Regions from separate parts of the Homo sapiens genome. Here region 2 is linked to region 1. The links come from fine-mapping of genetic effects on gene expression. A gene starts in region 1. The other region holds a variant in brackets. All regions are shown on one strand. Distances are from middle to middle.

Region 1 (8,571 bases):
TGAAACTATATATATATTTATACACACACACTTTTTTTTTTTGAGTCAGGGTCTTTCTCTGTTGCTCAGGCTGCAAAACAGTGGCACAATCATAGCTCACTGCAGCTCAACTTCCAGACTCAACTGATCCTCCCACTTCAGCCTCCCAAGTAGCTAGGACCATAGGCACGTGCTACCATGCCTGGCTAATTTTTTTTTTTTTTTTTTTTTTTTTTTGTGGAGATGAGGTCTCACTATGTTGCCCAACTTCTATCCTCAAGCCATCCTCCCACCTCAGCCTCCGGAAGTGTTGGGATTACAGGCATGAGCCACTGTGCCCAGACAAATAACTTTCTCGAACCAACCAAACAAGATATTTCACAGAATATTTCCTCCCTTAGGCAAAATGATACAATTTCAAAGTAGCTGCTACACTATCAATTAAAACTTTGCCTTCCCAAATGATGAGCAAACCAGGACAAAAAAAAAAAAAAAAAAACCAACTTGCAGTTTCACCCTTAGATAAGTGGGGAAAAATCCCTCAACTATAAAGACCTGTCCAAGGGCTGGGCACGGTGGCTCACGCCTTTAATCCCAACACTTTGGGAGGCCGAGGTGGGTGGATCACCTGAGGTCAGGAGTTCGAGACCAGCCTGGCCAACATGTGAAACCCTGTCTCAAAGAAAAATACAAAAATTAGCCGGGCATGGTGGCAGGCGCCTGTAATCCCAGCTACTCAGGAGGCTGAGGCAGGAGAACTGCTTGAACCCGGGAGGCGGAGGCTGCAGTGAGCTGAGATCGCGCCACTGCACTCCAGCCTGGGCGACAAAAGCAAAACTCCATCTCAAAAAAAAAAAAAAAGACAAGTGTGGTGGCTCATGCCTGTAATCTCAGCACTCTGGGAGGCCAGGGCGGATCACCTGAGGTTGGGAGTTCGAGACCAGCCTGACCAACATGGAGAAATGCACCGCTACTAAAAATACAAAGTTAGCCAGGTGAGGTGGTGCATGCCTGTAATCCCAGCTACTCGGGAGGCTGAGACAGGAGAATCGCTTGAACGCAGGAGGCGGAGGTTTCAGTGAGCTGAGATCGCGCCATTGCACTCCAGCCTGGGCAACAAGAGCAAACCTCCATCTCCAAAAAAAAAAAAAAAAAAAAAAAAAAAAAAAAAAAGCCTGTCCAAAACAAAGGATGGGTAGAGGCAAAAATAAGGCTGAAATCCTTCAGTATAATTCTCTGAAGTTACCTTAGTTAATAAGCAACAGAGAACAATGGCAGTTAAACCTGATATCTTCACATTTAAAATACAAAAGCACCCTTTCAATATCCAGACATAGAGCTCCTTTTTTTTTTTTAACCATACTTCCAAAATGGTTGATTCTTTTACATTCTCATTCCTTCAATATTTGTTTAGCACTTACTCTGTTCATGGTACTGTGCTAGACCTCAGTCATGTTATTAAAGAAAAAAAAAAAAAAGTCAGCCATAGGGCCTGCCCTCTTAAAGCTCACGTCCTAAAAGAGAAAGTAGACATTCAACTAATAGTCAACTAACTGTTTAATACAATTGCGTTAAGTAACACAATAGCGAATGCAAGTGTCAATACATAACACAGAATCCATCCCACGCTCTTCCATACCAAAAATCAATTGTCTTATAGTTTCCTGCTTCAGAAACCTAATTTCCACTCCCCGTGTGCACCCCTTTCAGCAGTTATTCTGTATATCTGTCAGGTTTCCAACTGTAGCTCTCAGATATACCTCTAGGGAAGATAAATTAAACTACTTCAAAAGTAATTTTTCCACCAACTGCTTTTGTAGTGTCAGTTCTTCTTTACATCCCTCTTATAAAGCATCACATGAGGGAATACAAAATATCTTTTGAGTGTTTTCAATCTTTACCCATTTATGGGGAAAAAAGACTTTTTAAAATAAGCATTTATAAAGCGCTTACTATCTGAAGACAACATAAGGGGAACGCAACGATAAGAAAAAAAGATCTGTGAGATTTGTGTTCAAGCAAAACTGATCCCATGGATTTTTCCTTTGGATACCACTGGATTCATAATTTTAATATAAATGCAGTATTGAGTAATTGCAATAGAAGAATATTTAGGTTATAAATGTGTGCTTTTTTTTCCCCAAGGAAGCCTCATTATAACTAAAATGATATCAACAAACTATTTTAGTGAACATTGGACGCTTGCTAAATCGACCTTTGTTTTCCAGGATGATAGGAAGTCATCTGCTGTCAGATACAGGAACTTATATAATAAAAAAGGGGGAAAGATCAGAACAGAAAATTACACGAAACTTCTAGTAAATTAAGACACTTATTTAGTTGAAAATATAAATCTAGGGAAGATTCTTTATAAGAAAAAGGAGATTTCCTATTATAAACACTGCTCCCATTGAAATAGCTATTTTATTGGCACTTAGAAAGTCAGACCCTAGTAAGGAAGAAAATGTTTTATATGTCAATATTTACCCTGCAGAACAGACAACAAAAGGGGAGTAGAGCTTAAGGCAAAACAGGAGGTATCTGGGTTAACAGCCTTCTAAAATGAAAGTTGAAAAGCACTGGCCCGAGTTACCAAGAAGGCTCTGGACCCTCTTTCCACTTAAAATGTTAAGACAAGTCATCACCTCGGTTCAGAATGGTATGGCACAATACGGCTTGAAAGCAGAGAAACATGCTATGTGACCTTCTAAGGACCCTTGCTTTTTTTTTTTTTAACTCGAGTTAAACAAAATCCATTATGACTTTTTCAGTTATTCATTCATTCCACAAATGCTTACTGGGTGCCTAGTATGCACATAGCACTGTGCTTAAGCCATGATGGTCCACAAGAAAACTCTAATGAGTTGGGCATTATATTCTAATGGCGAGACACGCTAAAGCAGCAATTCCATAAACGAACAGAGCGCACATTTAAGGGGGAAAGGGGCACGTAGGGAGGGCTTCTTTGAGGAAGCAATATTTAAGCTAAGATGTGAAGATGAACGGGTAACAACAAGGATGAAGGGTTAAAGCCCATATTTCAGGCTTGGTCGACTGGATGGTTAGAGTCATTCATTGGTAAAGGAACTGCGGATGGGAACCAGATTTGGAGGAAAGTTAACCACCCGCATTTATTTACTGGGGTCCTAGTATGTTGCCAAGCGCTTCACAAATTCCTCTAATCATTTTGCACAGCAGAAGCTATTACTTTCAGTTTCATACACAAAAGAGAGGCTGAGCGGGGTTAAAATGACGTGCCCAAGACGAAATAAAGAAATCTGACTTTTGTAATCAGGTTTGTATGTGCTCGAAAGCCCGCGCTCTTTCCACTCCACAGCTCCTTCCTGTGCACCTCCCTTTCATCTGGTGGCCCTAGCGCCACAAGCTGCCGCTTAGGAAGTCCCTGCCGGGAGCAGAAGTGGAGACATCAGCAGGATGGCATCGGCAAGTCGCTCCCCTCCCGGGCCTCATCTGCCAAACGATCATCTCCTCCTCCGAAGTTGTATGCATGACAGGCGAGTGGAAACTTCACTAAAATGAAGGCGATTGACACAACAGAAGGAACTCCATCCTTTCGGGGGCTTACGAAAATAATAAGTTTAAAAAAAATAGGAAGGGAATTCCCTCGCTCCATGATCACTGAGCGCTCTCCTAAGGAAAAGGAAATCTCCCGGGGGGTGCCGACTACGGGCGGCGGGCTTAGGATGCTCCCACGCTCCCCGACCCCCAATCCCCAGGACCCGCAGGACCTCCGGAGGAACGCCCGCCAGCCCGCCCGGAGCCACGCGGCACAAGGTGACACGGACCGCGCCGCGCGGGCCCCTCAGCCGCCTGGGCGAGGCCGGGAGCAGGGAGAGGGGCATCCGCCGGCCCGCGGTACCTTGTACTTATCAAAGCCAGCCAGCTGCTCCGGGCTCACGTATTCGTAGCCAGCCATGACGACCCGAAAACTGAGCGCCCACTCGGCAGCGACTCCCGGCTACAAGGCTGTGACACACAAGCACCACACCGGCTGGGCAAGGATGGCAAAGACTGGGCTGCCCGAGAAGGTAGGAGAGCCGCGCTCCGCCCACCGCGCACGCGTAGCCGCCTCGGCCCCTTCGGCCGCCTCTCAGTGCGCAAGCGCAGCCCACGCTTCTCCCCGCCCATCGAGGGGGGGTTGCTAGCCCGCTCGAGCGGCCCGTCCCCCGACACTGCTGTTGTCCAATCGGCGTGGATCAGGCAACACTAAGTCCCGCCTTCCAGCTCTCTTCGTCGCTTCATTTGCTAGCGTCAAAATTGGTGAGCTGAGGTAAGGCAAGAGAGGGGGTGAAAGGTCAATTTCCCAGCGGGCTTTGCTCCCGGTCCCGGGGGAAGGTGGGATTTCTGTGGTATCCGCACTTGCGTGGTGATCTGGGGTATACCGTTTTAGTCTTGGGGGTAGAGTGACTGCTTGCGAACCAGTTCAGCAGTGCCTCAGGTAAGAGGACTTAGTTCTCCCGCTGCAGCGAAGTAAAAGAGGAAGGAGGTCTGTACCGCGAGCCGCTCCCAGCTCCTGGTGCGGTGCGCTGCGTGCCGTAGAAATTTAGTAAACGTGGTTAGATGTAGAGAAGGCCGAGCTGCTGCCGGGGCCACGGGAGTCTTTGTGCGGTCAGCAGAGGGACTTGAAAGACAGGTGAAAGGACATTGGAGACAAGCCCCTCAGGTCTATGTTGCTTAGGAACCTTGGACCGCCTCATCGCACTCCGCTCTATCAAACCGTTCCAAATTAAGATTGCTGGTGTCTCCCGACCAGATAAAAGCAGTGATCTCTCAGTCTCGACGAGTCCTTAAATGCGTTTGCAAGAGGTGTTTTACATAACTGGAGCCCAGTTAATTGTAAAACAAACAAACAAACAAAAAACACTAGATCAATGGCTAGTGAGTATCTACTAATAAAATTTTATAATAGTTGCTGCTTTTTATTGAGCGCCTTCTGTGGGGAGAACTTCACATACATTATCAACCCCATAACAACACTGAAGTGAAAGGCATTATCCCCTTTTTCAGATTAGGCAGCCTGCCCAGAGTCACTTAGTTACGAAGCTCGGAAATGATCGACCCAACATGAAATGAGTTCTGTGTTATGGGAAACCACTACTTCAGGGAGCCTTTCAGTCTCTCTGGGTCTCTGAAATAAGGGCGATTATTTTGAGATACTTTTATGTTCATTCGTTTAACAACTATTTATTGGGGACCCGAGATATGCCAAACACAGTATTATTACTACATGTCTAATCTCCCCTCCTAAAGCATGATTCTTAGAAAGTAATAGATAATCTTATACCTGGTATATGGTAGATAATAAGCTTCTCCCCGCCCCCTGAGACAGGGACTGACTCACCCAGGCTGGAATGCAGTGACGTGATCACGGCTCACTGCAGCCTCGACCTCCCCTGGCTCAGGTGATCTTGCTTCCGTCTCCCAAGTAGCTAGAACTACAGGCGCACACCACCACACCCGGCTAAATTTTTTGCATTTTTTGAAGAATGGGCGCCCGCCAACCAATAAACTTCAGTGTCCTTTATCACACTTGCCCTCGAGGGCAGTATTTGCATCTTATACATCTTAATTTTCCCCATGTTCCATAACCCAGGGGGCTTGCAAATAATACATGATCAACGTATTTTATTGAATGAATGAGCAAAGATCTCTTTGATATGCTGTGAAGTACCAGTTTTGAGAAGAACATTAGAAATGAGAGTCTCGGCCAGGCGCGGTGGCTCACGCTTGTAATCCCTACACTTTGGGAGCCTGAGGTGGAGGGATTACTTGCGATCAGGAGTTTGAGACCAGCCTGGACAATATGGTGAAACCTCGTCTCAACTAAAAATACAAAAACTAACCGGGTGTGGTGGCACGCGCCTGTAGTCCCAGCTACTCAGGTTATTGAGGCAGGAGAATCGCTTGAGCCTGGGAGGTGGGGTTACGGTGAACCGAGATTGTGTCACTGCGCTCCAGCCTGGGCGACAGAGCAAGACTCCGTCTCAAAAACAAAACCAAAAAAACCCTTCATACTTGTAAAACTTAGTTAATTGTGGAAAGCCATAAAATGTGACTTCAGTGCAAGCTAATAATAGTTTATAAACTGCACTTATTGTTTATCAGTTCAGATATAAGCAAACTCAAAATGACATGATTGATTCTTAAAATTGTTTTCTACCTCTGATATTTTCTTTAAAAGCACTTTTTAAAACAGTAACTTTTAATTTTGTGAAAGCAGTTACAATTTGCTGCTTCTCTGCATAAGGTTGTAACAAGTTTGAATCAATTATAAATTCATCTGATAATTTATAAGCTGAAGCATAACCCAGAAATTGGTTTATACTTTGACATGTTACTGGCTGTGTAATCTCAGACAACTTACTTCACTTAGCCCCAGTACTCTTTTTCAAAAAGAGGGTATTTGGGCCGGGCGCCGTGGCTCACGCCTATAATCCCAGCACTTTGGAAGGCCGAGTCGGGCGGATCACGAGGTCAGGAGATCGAGACCATCCTGGCTAACACGGTGAAACCCCGTCTCTACTAAAAATATAAAAACAAAATTAGCCGGGCGTGGTGGCGGGTACCTGTAGTCCCAGCTACTCGGAAGGCTGAGGCAGGAGAATGGTGTGAACCCGGGAGGCGGAGCTTGCAGTGAGCCGAGATCGCGCCACTGCACTCCAGTCTGGGTGACACAGCGAGGCTCTGTCTCAAAAAAATAAAAAAAAAAAAGATCATTTGATCCTAAGATCTAATTCGATCCATTAGAACCTATTAGGTACTACGATCCTATTCATCTCTGAAATTCAGTGAAACTGTATATCATATAACTTCTCTGAGATTAAGTCATCTCATCTGGGAAATCTTGTCTTACCTACAATGATATGGCCCCAGTCTGTTCAATTAAATTCATACAAATTTAAGATATTAGTCATGCTCCATATAACCATGTTTCCGTCAATGAGGGACCACATGTGGTCCCTTAAGATTATAGTGGAGCTGAAAAATTTCTGTCATCTAGTGACATCCTAGCTGTCAAAATGTTGTAACACAAGGCATTACTCACGTTCGTGGTAATGCTAGTGTAAACAAACCTACCGCGCTGCCAGTCATCTAAAAGTATAGCACATATAATTATGTACACTACTGAATACTTGATAATAACTAACTGTCTTACTGGCTTTTGTATTTACTATCAGAGCATATCCTGTCATTAAGTGATGCATGACTGTATTTTCGCAGAATTCTGTGAATCCTAAACCCGGCAGGCATGGTCACGTGGGAAGAGAAAAATGTCATGGAAACAAATTTGCCTTTGGAACTAAGTCACCTTTCTGTTTCCTCGTTCCCAAATTTTATTCCAGGAGGCATTTTTCCCTAAGGCAGCCCAGCTGCCCCGGACTGCTTTAGATTGGCCTTGTTATTCCCATCTGTGCTCTACACGCCACATTCCTGAGTGTAGTTTATTATTGCTTTGTTTCCCATGTCTGCCTCTTCATCCATTGAAGTTTATTTCTTCTACATCTTGTACACTCAAGATCAGGCATTTTGCCTTCCAGAATAATAATCATAGAAAATATCAATTCGTGCTAGAAACAATATTTTTATTTTTATAATATAACCAAAATAAAGTGTTTTAAGTTCCTGGAGTGCCTGTTTTATTTAGTCTGAATAAGAGTGTATCAGATAAATGGAGACAGCCAAAAAATATTGGAGGTTAATTAAGGACTAATGTAGTTAATAACTCCAATATAAGTTACTGAAGCCATAAAAATGGGCAGGGTCTTCCAAAGAAGTTTGTAAAAAGGTATTGATTTAGTTCTCATTTTAAAATAAAAATGAATGCCTTATACACATAAACTCTGGTTCTCAAAGCAGTTTCACATGACTAACAATCCTGAGCCATGGGCCTGATGGCTGTTCCAATTGTATAGAGTGGAACAATAGAATAGTAATATATCTTACCAAAAGTCACCCAGGAAAGAGGAACACAGGTCATCAGACTTTTAGTTGAATAATTTTCCACTACACTATGCTTCTACAAGTTGATGGTAAGATATTAAAAAAAAAAAATCACAAGTCAGTTGTTTTTTTTTTGAGATGGAGTCTTGCTCTGTCGCCTAGGCTGGAGTGCAGTGGCGCAATATCAGCTCACTGCAATCTCCGCCTCCCGGGTTCACGCCATTCTCCTGCCTCAGCCTCCCAAGTAGCTGGGACTACAGGCACCTGCCACCATGCCCGGCTAATTTTTTGTATTTTTAGTAGAGACGGGGTTTCACCGTGTTGGCCAGGATGGTCTCGATCTCCTGACCTCGTGATCTGCCCGCCTCAGCCTCCCAAAGCGCTGGGATTACAGGTGTGAGCCACCGCGCCCAGCTCACAAGTCAGTTTTTAATCAAATTCCAGCATGCTGAAAGGCTGAGAAAGGAGGGTCCCTTGAGCCCAGGAATTCAAGACCAGCCTGGGCAACATAGGGAGACCCTGTCTCTACCAAAAAAAACAAAAAGGAACTCCCCAGTTATTATAGTAAATCTTCTCAAGTGGGGTTTTGTTTGCCTGTTTTTTGCTATATTTTACATTTTTCAATCATAA
Region 2 (8,324 bases), 170 kb before region 1:
TCTTCTCCCATGGGCAGGGGTGGCAGGGAGGGCTTCTTAAAGTTACCGGGGTCTCAGCCACCACAGCAAGGGGAGAAGGGGTGCAGAATAAGCTATGTATGGACACCCATGGGAAGGCGGGCTGGGAGGAGAACACAGAAACCTGGATGAAGAGTGTAGTGTGGGAAGTGAGATAAGAGAATTGGGGAGTGAGCAGGGATGGACAGACAGCACAGCCCATGCCCTGGATTTTCAGAATCAGACTTAAGATGTCAGCAGAGGAAAGGACTCACGGATCTCCTAGCCCACTTGCCACCCATCTCCGCTACCCATTGTTATGAATGGGAACAATGAAGTCCTGGATGGGGAATGGATTCGGCCACAGTTGACAGCAGGGCCAGCACGGAGACCCAGGACTTCCAATGCCAGAGACCACCATTTTCCCATAACAACATACTTGGTTCCACCAAGAGGGTCCCATTTGTTCCAGAAAGGACATGGGGCTTGGAGTTAGGCAGCCTGGGCTCAGATCCCAGCTCCAGTACTTCCTAGCTGTGTGACTTAAAGCAAGTAACTTAACCTCCTGATATGCTAGGTAAGGTAGGTTGCAATGTTGAAAAGATCAAATGAGTGTACATTAAAGCATCTTAGCATGATGCCTAGCACAGTGAGGATTCAGAAAATATGTGCACCTTTCCCTTCCCTTGGGAAATCTAAGCCTGGGTGCTGGAGCATCCAAGCACTGAGTGAGGGCCGCCTGTCTGGGGCACAGGACCAAGTCACCTCTAGACCAGTGAGGAAGGGTGATCCCTGTGCACTGGGGGGGAAACTAGAGCTGCAAGAAAGTAATGGCTCCAGGACGCAGAGCAGGAAGCCCAATCATGACTCTCCACTGCTAAGCCTGAGCCCGGTTGAGTGCTCTACTTTTTGCCAGAGGAAAACCCTAGGGCAGCTCCCAAGATTCCCTCCCTCTCCAGGGTAGGAAGGGTGAGTGTGAGCCTGGGCCCTGGGCTCCTCTCCCGGAGGCCACTTTCAGCTCATTCTGTCCATTTCCAACAAGCCGATTTCTGGCGGGCCGCGCCTCATGCCTGCAGGCAGCCCTTGTTCTGAGGAGAGGAGGTGGCCTGATCATGGGGATGCTGAACGACACTCTCGGTTATGTAGACAGTGGACTCGGGGGGTGAGTCCAGGCTCAGTTGTCCTGGGCAGGCCAGGCCCCTCCACCTTGAGCACCAGGGAGGAGTGGAACCACCAGCAGCGGGACCTGGAGCCAGGTACCAGTAAGCTGACCCGGTCTGCACAAGTCAGCCTTTCAGAGCCTCTGTTTTCTCATCAGCAAAATGGGGCAGAGGGGATCATACCATCCTGACCTCCTCCAGTGAGGCAAGGGTGTGGAAGCGCTGTGTAAACACCACCAAGCAGCCACATATACGGGGTGGAGATTGCTGTCACCATCCCAGCTGCTCACCACCGCCTCCCTCCCTTCAGACCAGCCTGTGCGTGGAGGTCCGGTATCAGGCCACTGACGGCACAGTGGGCTCCTGGGACGATGGGGACTTCCTGGGAGATGAGTCTCTTCAAGAGGAAGAGAAGGACAGCCAAGAGACGGATGGACTGCTCCCAGGCTCCCGGCCCAGCTCCCGGCCCCCAGGAGAGAAGAGCTTCCGGAGGTAACAGGCAGGACCCCTCTGGCTGCCCACTGCTCCCAAGACACGGGGAAGAGACCTGGGGCCTGGTCCTACTGACAGGCCTCTCTAGGCCTAGCTGGGCTCAGAGTACAGGGCTGAGCTTCTGGAGAGACATCCAAGGGGTGGGAAGATGTTTCTGTAGCCCCCCACCCAGCCGTCCACCCCCGAGGTCACTGGGCAGGGAGCAGGAGACTCAGATGGAGCTGCAAGGCCAAGGCCTCCCCAGTGGCCCTGAGGGAGGTGGAGCTCTAACACAGGGATGGGGCTAGATCTCCTGCCTTTCTCAGAGAAGGGGAGTTGGGGATAGGAGGGCCCCTGGCCTCTCTGGTTCAAGACCCAGCAGTGTCCACCAGGTGCCGGCAGCCTGACCTCTACCCTGGCCCAGTGAGGAGGCCCAAGAGAGGGCAGCTCTTCCTGCCAGAGTGAAGCCAAAGATCCTGGCTGGGCCCTGGCCTTTCTTCCTCTTGAGAAGGGAGGGTACCCGGGAACCCCCAGAATCCAGCGTCACGCCCTGCAAGTGTCCTGCCACCTATGGATCACAGGAAGCTGGATCCAGGACAGCTCATTCCACGTGCACTATTTTTACAAAACAGAAAATGCAATTGTATTACTATTAGAGACCAAGGGGACAGAATCTGGGCTAGTCTAGTAAGATGTTGTCCATGGGTTCCTAAGTCACTAGGAATTATGTGTTAAATGCCAGTAAGTCAAGGGTGCATCTGAAGGACCAGGGTGTGTTTTGAGAAGGGACCCTCCGTGCCACTGGAAACATATCCCTGTAAGCTCCTTCCACGCTTTCCTTTCCAAGTAAAGTTTACTCAGTCCCTCTGCTGAAGAAACCATAGGTTCTAAATTAGTGTAATTGAACTGACATACTTTTATGGGACAAATATGTTTTCTCCTTTGCACTTGAATGAGTTCACACCCCCTTAAGCACCCCTCACACACAGGTGCATGAGTGCACACGTGTGCACATACACATACACACACACACACAAGCTTCAGAAACCCTGGGAGCCAGATGAGTAATAGTAACAAGGTCAAAGTGACCAGGCCTGCAACAAACATGGCGGGACTGTCTACTCCAGGCCAGCCACGGGCATGGGGCAGCCCCAGGCTAGCTTAAAGCCTGTCCCCTCAGACTCCTGGCTCTTTAGCAGAAAACCCAGGCCTGAGTCCTAGCTCTGCCTCTTACTAGTCGTGTGACCCTTGGCAAGTCTCTGACCCTCTCTCCTCACCTGCAAAGAAGGACATAGCAAGGAAATCCCCCTGCCCTGCTGCTGGGAGAGCCGGAGGGATCACAGAGGAACAGGTGGCAATGGAGGTGCTGAGCGCTGCCCATGTCCAGGCTGGTGACAGACAAACAGGTTTCTTGTAGCACAACAATGCAAAGAGTCAGGAATCGGGTTGGAAATTGTGAGAAGAGGAGCAGTGCTCAGACGGGGAGTGAAGGGATGCTGACTCAGTGGGCACCACCTGGTCCTCCTCGACTGTCTCCATTCAGAAAAGAGGTTGGCAGGGCTGGTCCAGAAACCAGAAGCCGGGCTCTAAGAAAGAGCTTCCAGAGAACAAGATCGGAAGCCACACAAGGGCCATCAGTCACAGGGAAAGGAATGCTGACCCCAAATCAGGAGAGCTAAGGCCCATTAAGTCCCATCTTGACTGTGCCACTCATTGGCTGAGTGACACTGGGCATGTCACCAGCCCCTGTAGGTCAGTGACAGGAATGGGTTCAGCAAGTTACATCTGGCTCCCCTCCAACTCTGAGGTCCTAAGGGACCCATGGATGCTCCGGACCTGTGGGTCACATCCATGGGAAACAACATCCTGGGAGCCCTTAGCAGCCACGAAGGCAACCTCCCTGGGGTGGCGTAGCAACACAGAGCCAGTTTCTCACTCAGTCCTAAGAGAGTGGGCCAGGGTGCTGATGGGGGCTCTGGAGAGCTTAGAGTCCCAGAGAGCCCTAGGCACCAGGAATCTGGAGATAAGAGGGCTCCCCCGACCCTTCCTCACAGCCTGGTGGCTTCCCCACCTCTCCCCATCTTCGTGTGGCCCCTCCCAGGGTAGCAGCAAGAAGCGGGAGCAAAAGGAGGGGCTTCACCCCGGACTGGGAATTGGGAGAGGGTGACAGCCGAAGCCAGGCACCCCCACCCTGCATTGCAGGGGCAGTGTGCAGGAGCACAGTTTCCCTGCTGCCACTGGGGCTGCCAGCCCAGGTTTGAGAGCACA[T/C]TGGGGACAGGCATCGCTGCTACACCTTCTCCCGCCAGGCCTAGCCATGCAGCCAGCAGGCCTGGTTGTGGAAAAGAGGGGTTGAGAAAAATTCTAGAGATGGGCCATTTGCTGGTGAGGAGAAGGTGGAGCGGGTTCAAGAACTTGGGGTTTTCCTGTAGCTTAATCCTGGCTGCCCATATGGGGCCATTGAGTTCTGGGTCAAGGAGTGCTGAGGTGAGGAGGGGGACCTGGAAGCTGGCCCCGCAGCCCTAGATGTTGCATCTCACCCTTGTCACATAGTGTGGGTTCTGGGAGGAAGCCAGAGAGCTCTCCAGAAGGGACTTGGCCAACCTTTTATCAGGAAAACACCTACTCCTTAAAGAGGACAACACCGGGGAAGGGGTGTCAGTGCCTCACCTCTGACCCCGTTAGGAGCCCAGGCAGGCTTCCCCTGCATCTGCTCCCTGCCCTCCATCCTCTCCTGGGAAGGCCAATCCCCTTATAGATCAGGGTATTCAATAACCACAGTTCCCTCTTGTTCCTGCTTTAGCCACAATGAGCAAGAGGAAAATCCCGTTGCTGGCAAGCAGCAGTGTCTCACCGGCCATCTTGACCGTTAGGGTCCGGCGTGGGGATCAGCCGCTCCCTGGCTGATGGGGTGAAATGAAGGCCTGCTGGGGGCTGCGGGGAGGTAGACTGAGTGGGCAGGAAACAGCCTCAGCCCAGACAGGCCCCGGGCAGCCCAGGCTGGAATCTTCCACGGATGGAGGGGAGGCTGATGCCAGGAGATCCTCTGGGCACTCCTCACCTCTCCCTCCAGGGCCTGGGTCCACCCCCCAGCCCTGCCCTGCCTGGCCTGCTTCTCTGGGACTTCACCCACATTCATCCTGTCCTCACTCTGGGGGTCAGATGGTTCTAAGCAGGGGCAGTGTGGACCTCAGGCCTCAGCTGCTGTGACACTCACTCCTAAGACCCTAAGAATCTGCCATGAAGTTACCCCGTTCCTCCTCAGGGAATCAGTATGGGGGCTCTGCCTGAATGACCACCAACCCCACCGCCCACTGACTCTCTGCCCCAACGATTCCACCTCCCCTAGGCCCTGGTCAGCCGCATGCCCTCTGAGCCACTCTGCCCACTTCTCTAGTTCCTGCCACGAAGCCCTGATTTCTGCCGGCTTTTTGCACAATGCCCCCGGTAATGTGCCAGGAAGCTGTGCTGTGTGACAGAGCACAGGCTCCACTCACAGCTCTGCTATTGGGAACCCCCCTCCCCATTTGTGAGATGGGGCTCAAGGATGCCTCACAGAAGTGCCAGGATTGAGTGAGGTGCACCTGCGAGTCATCCACCCCTGTGCCTGGCATGTGGCAGGTGCTCAGCCAGTGTTCACTTCCTTCCTCTTCACTGACTCCATGTTACCCTGATGTCAACTTCTACCCCGAGCAGCACCTGACCCTCTTGTTCAGGTGCTGTCCAAGCACCTTCTCAGCTCTTGCTCCCCACCCTATACCAAGGGCTCTGCAGAAGCTGCCCACACAGGAGCCTTACTGGCCCAGGGGCAGGTATAGGGAGCTCATTTACTCAAAGTTCCCCTCACCTCCCCAGGCTCTCAGTGTTGCAGAGATGTAATGAATCCCTAACCTCATGGGCGCTCCACTCTCAGCAGCACAAAATCAGTGTTCCAGACCCTTGCATGGCAGCGTATGCCTGCCCTAGTCTCTGGAGAGAAAGTGACTTCGGCCCTGACCACACTCACATGCACACACATGTGTACACAAGTGCCCATGTGTTTGCACACACTCACATGCACTGCATGACACCAGGGAGGACTCTGGATTCTGGGCTCTGCTGTTGATGCTGTCTTTAGGAGTCACATCTTAGAGAGGACAAAGAAAGAAATCCCAGCTTTAGTCTTGCAGCTAAACTGTAGAGACCTGAGCCTTTCCTCCTGAGTCCCAGTATTCTGCGACTATCTCCTCTTCTCATTTTCTCCACCTGGCCTGGCTCTCCTGCCCTCCACGACCCCCACCTCCTTCTGCTGCCCAAACCCTCTTCTGCTGGTCTCCTCTCTGCTGGGTCTCATCTGGGAGGAGTTTGGGGCAGGAGCCACTTTTCTCATTCTCCTTATTGATCATTCTTCCACTCCAGTGGAGGCCTGCAGAAGCCAGGTAACTTCCTCCTATGCTGGGGCCAGAGGGCAGTGGGGCACGTGTGCATGGTGGGGCTCTGAGACAGAGGGGCAGAGAGTGGGCATGCAGAAGTGTGTGCATGTGGGGCCAGTACATGCAGCCTTACCCCAAGAGTGTTTTTAAATCGGTTTCCACAGCCCCTAGAGAGCTAGAAAATCCTCTGCTGCCTTCCTTCTCCAGGCTGAGCCCCAGAGTTGCAGCAGCTCCCAAAGCTGCTCAGATGAGCCGGGGCAGCCGGGCGCACTGGGATTTTGTGCTTGAGACACATTCCTCCTCCTATGCTGTGAGCTCTTCTCCGCTTAGTAGTCTCAGCTGATGTGGGCAGCCGAGGCCTGGCTGATGTTAACACCTTTGAATTACAGACTGACCTGCTTGCCCAACGTAAAGGTTAGCTGGCCAGCGCTGGACTGCAGCTGTGCTGTGTCTAGGCCTTCAGGTCTTGAGCCATCAGGATATGCAGTCAAGTCTACCTGGGCAAGGCCTGTGCCAGAACAGGGTGTGAGGAGAGGAATAATTTGCTAATTGTTATTCACTTTCCTGTCTTCATCCTCATTGCCACAGCACTGGGAAAGCATTGAGAGAACATTCCAGAAAAGTTTTCTGGAAGCCTCCCTAAAGTGAGATAGGGGGGCCGTTTTTCCCTGCTCTGAGCCCTGGAGTGGTAGCTCACTTACCGCCCCACCTACACCCCTAGAACTGCCCCCAACCACCCGTGTGCACTCCATAGCAGGACCCCCAGCCCTGCCTCACCCTCACAGAGCAGGCTTAGCCCACTGTTCCCCTAGAGGCCCCCAGAGCCTGGGAGCTCCCACCCCATTGGAGGGGAGCAGGGGAGCAGGGGAGCCGGTGGGCAGAGGAGCAGGGTGGCCCAGGCCGGGAGGGTGGCCAGGCTCATCTAACCCTGTGTTCCCTGAGGAAGCTGCGACCCACATTGTGGAATCATCAGATCTTAGCCTGGTAGGGGCGATGAGCTGAGGCCCTGAGGTATCAGAGCTTGGGGTTGGAATAGTGGCCACCCAGGCCCAGCACTGTGGGCCCCTCCCATCTCCCCCAAGGCAGAACCCAGGGCCATGGGACCCCTTTTCTGCAGACCTAGGCTTGCTACCGTGCGAAGCTGTGGGGTGAGAGGTCTGTGGGACAAGGAGGCCCCCGGGGAGCGTGCAGGCCCGTGGGGCCGGGGCTGAGGCCAGTGTCTCTGGTCCACAGCCCCTCACACGTGTCCCCTTGTCTCCTCATTTCTTCCCCCTACTCAGCAAAGGCAGAGAGAAGACCAAGGGAGGCAGAGATGACGAGCACAAGTAGGTGTCCCAGGCGAGGGCAGACGCAACAGCGTCTCTGGGGAGACAGAGGCCTCCTCCCCACAGGCTGTGGAGGGCGGGATGGGCTCGGCTGAGAGGGCTCAGGAGTGGGCTGTCGTGGTAGAGCTGGCACGGGTCATGGAGGCCCAGGGAGGCCTTTTCACCTGGCCACGGGGGTGAGGGATGAGGAGGGGTTAGGGTCGCGGGGGAGGTGGCCAGACCTTCTGGTTTCCACTCTGGGCTCTCGGGGGTGACCATCCTCCTCTCCGTGTCTTGTTCCTCCTCCACTGTTCAGCCCCCATCCTGTGGCCTTCGGGCTTCCCTGGGAGGGAGGGGACAGCTAAAGGCTAAGGGGAGAGGGGCATGAGGACCTCAGGGATCCCTCTCCCAACAGGGGCGAGGTAGGGCCAGGCAGCTGGAGGCATAAGGAGGAGGAACTCTGGGTACCCTTTGCAGCTGCAGGTCGTGGGTGGAGTTGGAGACCCCCAGAAAGCTTAGGAGAGGCCACCATTTGGGCGGCCCTCTCTATCTTCATCTCCCCAAAAGGCTTCCTGGAAAAATGAGGTCAGGGTGCTGTCTGGAGAGGACAGGAGAAGGGTCCTGCAGGTGGGAGGGGCTGGTCACAAGGGTCTGGAAAGATTCGAAGGCTGGGAGTTGTGAATGGGTCTTGTAGGCACCCCTAGAAGCACACTGACATCTGGAGGACTCTAGCATTACGGGATCTCATAAGGGCAGTGGTAGCCAAGGTGGACCATACTGGAGGAGGCCTCTGGTTAACACCTGCTCTTACAGATGACAAATCTGTCTCAGAACAGGGGCAGAGCTGGAACCAGAAGACAGGGAAGCTGACTTCTGACCCAGAGCTCACCATAGACCCAGGAAATTTAGAGAACTTGACTGTATCTAAATTTAATCTAATTCTCCAAACATACCAATGAGAGCTGAAAAGCCAGGAGTGTGGT

Which allele goes with the higher level. Alleles are on the strand shown, and positions count from the first base shown. SD is a standard deviation of normalised expression in the study named.
As copies of C replace T in region 2, the expression in spleen of the gene that starts at base 4,006 in region 1 goes up (small effect, 0.23 SD a copy in GTEx).

What was found. PIP is the estimated chance that this variant, and not a neighbour inherited with it, causes the effect.
Region 2: its variant is fine-mapped to the expression of SELENOI in spleen (GTEx, PIP 0.97).

Annotation. Positions count from the first base shown.
Region 1 is chr2:26,341,578-26,350,148 of GRCh38, reverse strand. SELENOI (selenoprotein I) reads right to left here and starts at 4,006. Exons shown (of 10, transcript NM_033505.4): 1 at 3,860-4,006. The coding sequence starts at 3,916. ADGRF3 (adhesion G protein-coupled receptor F3) reads left to right here and starts at 3,360. Exons shown (of 14, transcript NM_001321971.2): 1 at 3,360-4,028. The coding sequence starts at 3,915. RefSeq lists enhancers at 3,102-3,201, 3,314-4,081, 4,402-4,541 and silencers at 3,742-3,791, 3,852-3,911, 3,962-4,191.
Region 2 is chr2:26,509,743-26,518,066 of GRCh38, reverse strand. It overlaps OTOF (otoferlin), which reads left to right. Exons shown (of 47, transcript NM_194248.3): 5 at 1,468-1,649. Among named protein-coding and RNA genes, the nearest start is that of OTOF, 45 kb to the left of the region's middle. RefSeq lists an enhancer at 5,795-6,718. The variant T/C (reference allele first, on the strand shown) is at 3,897.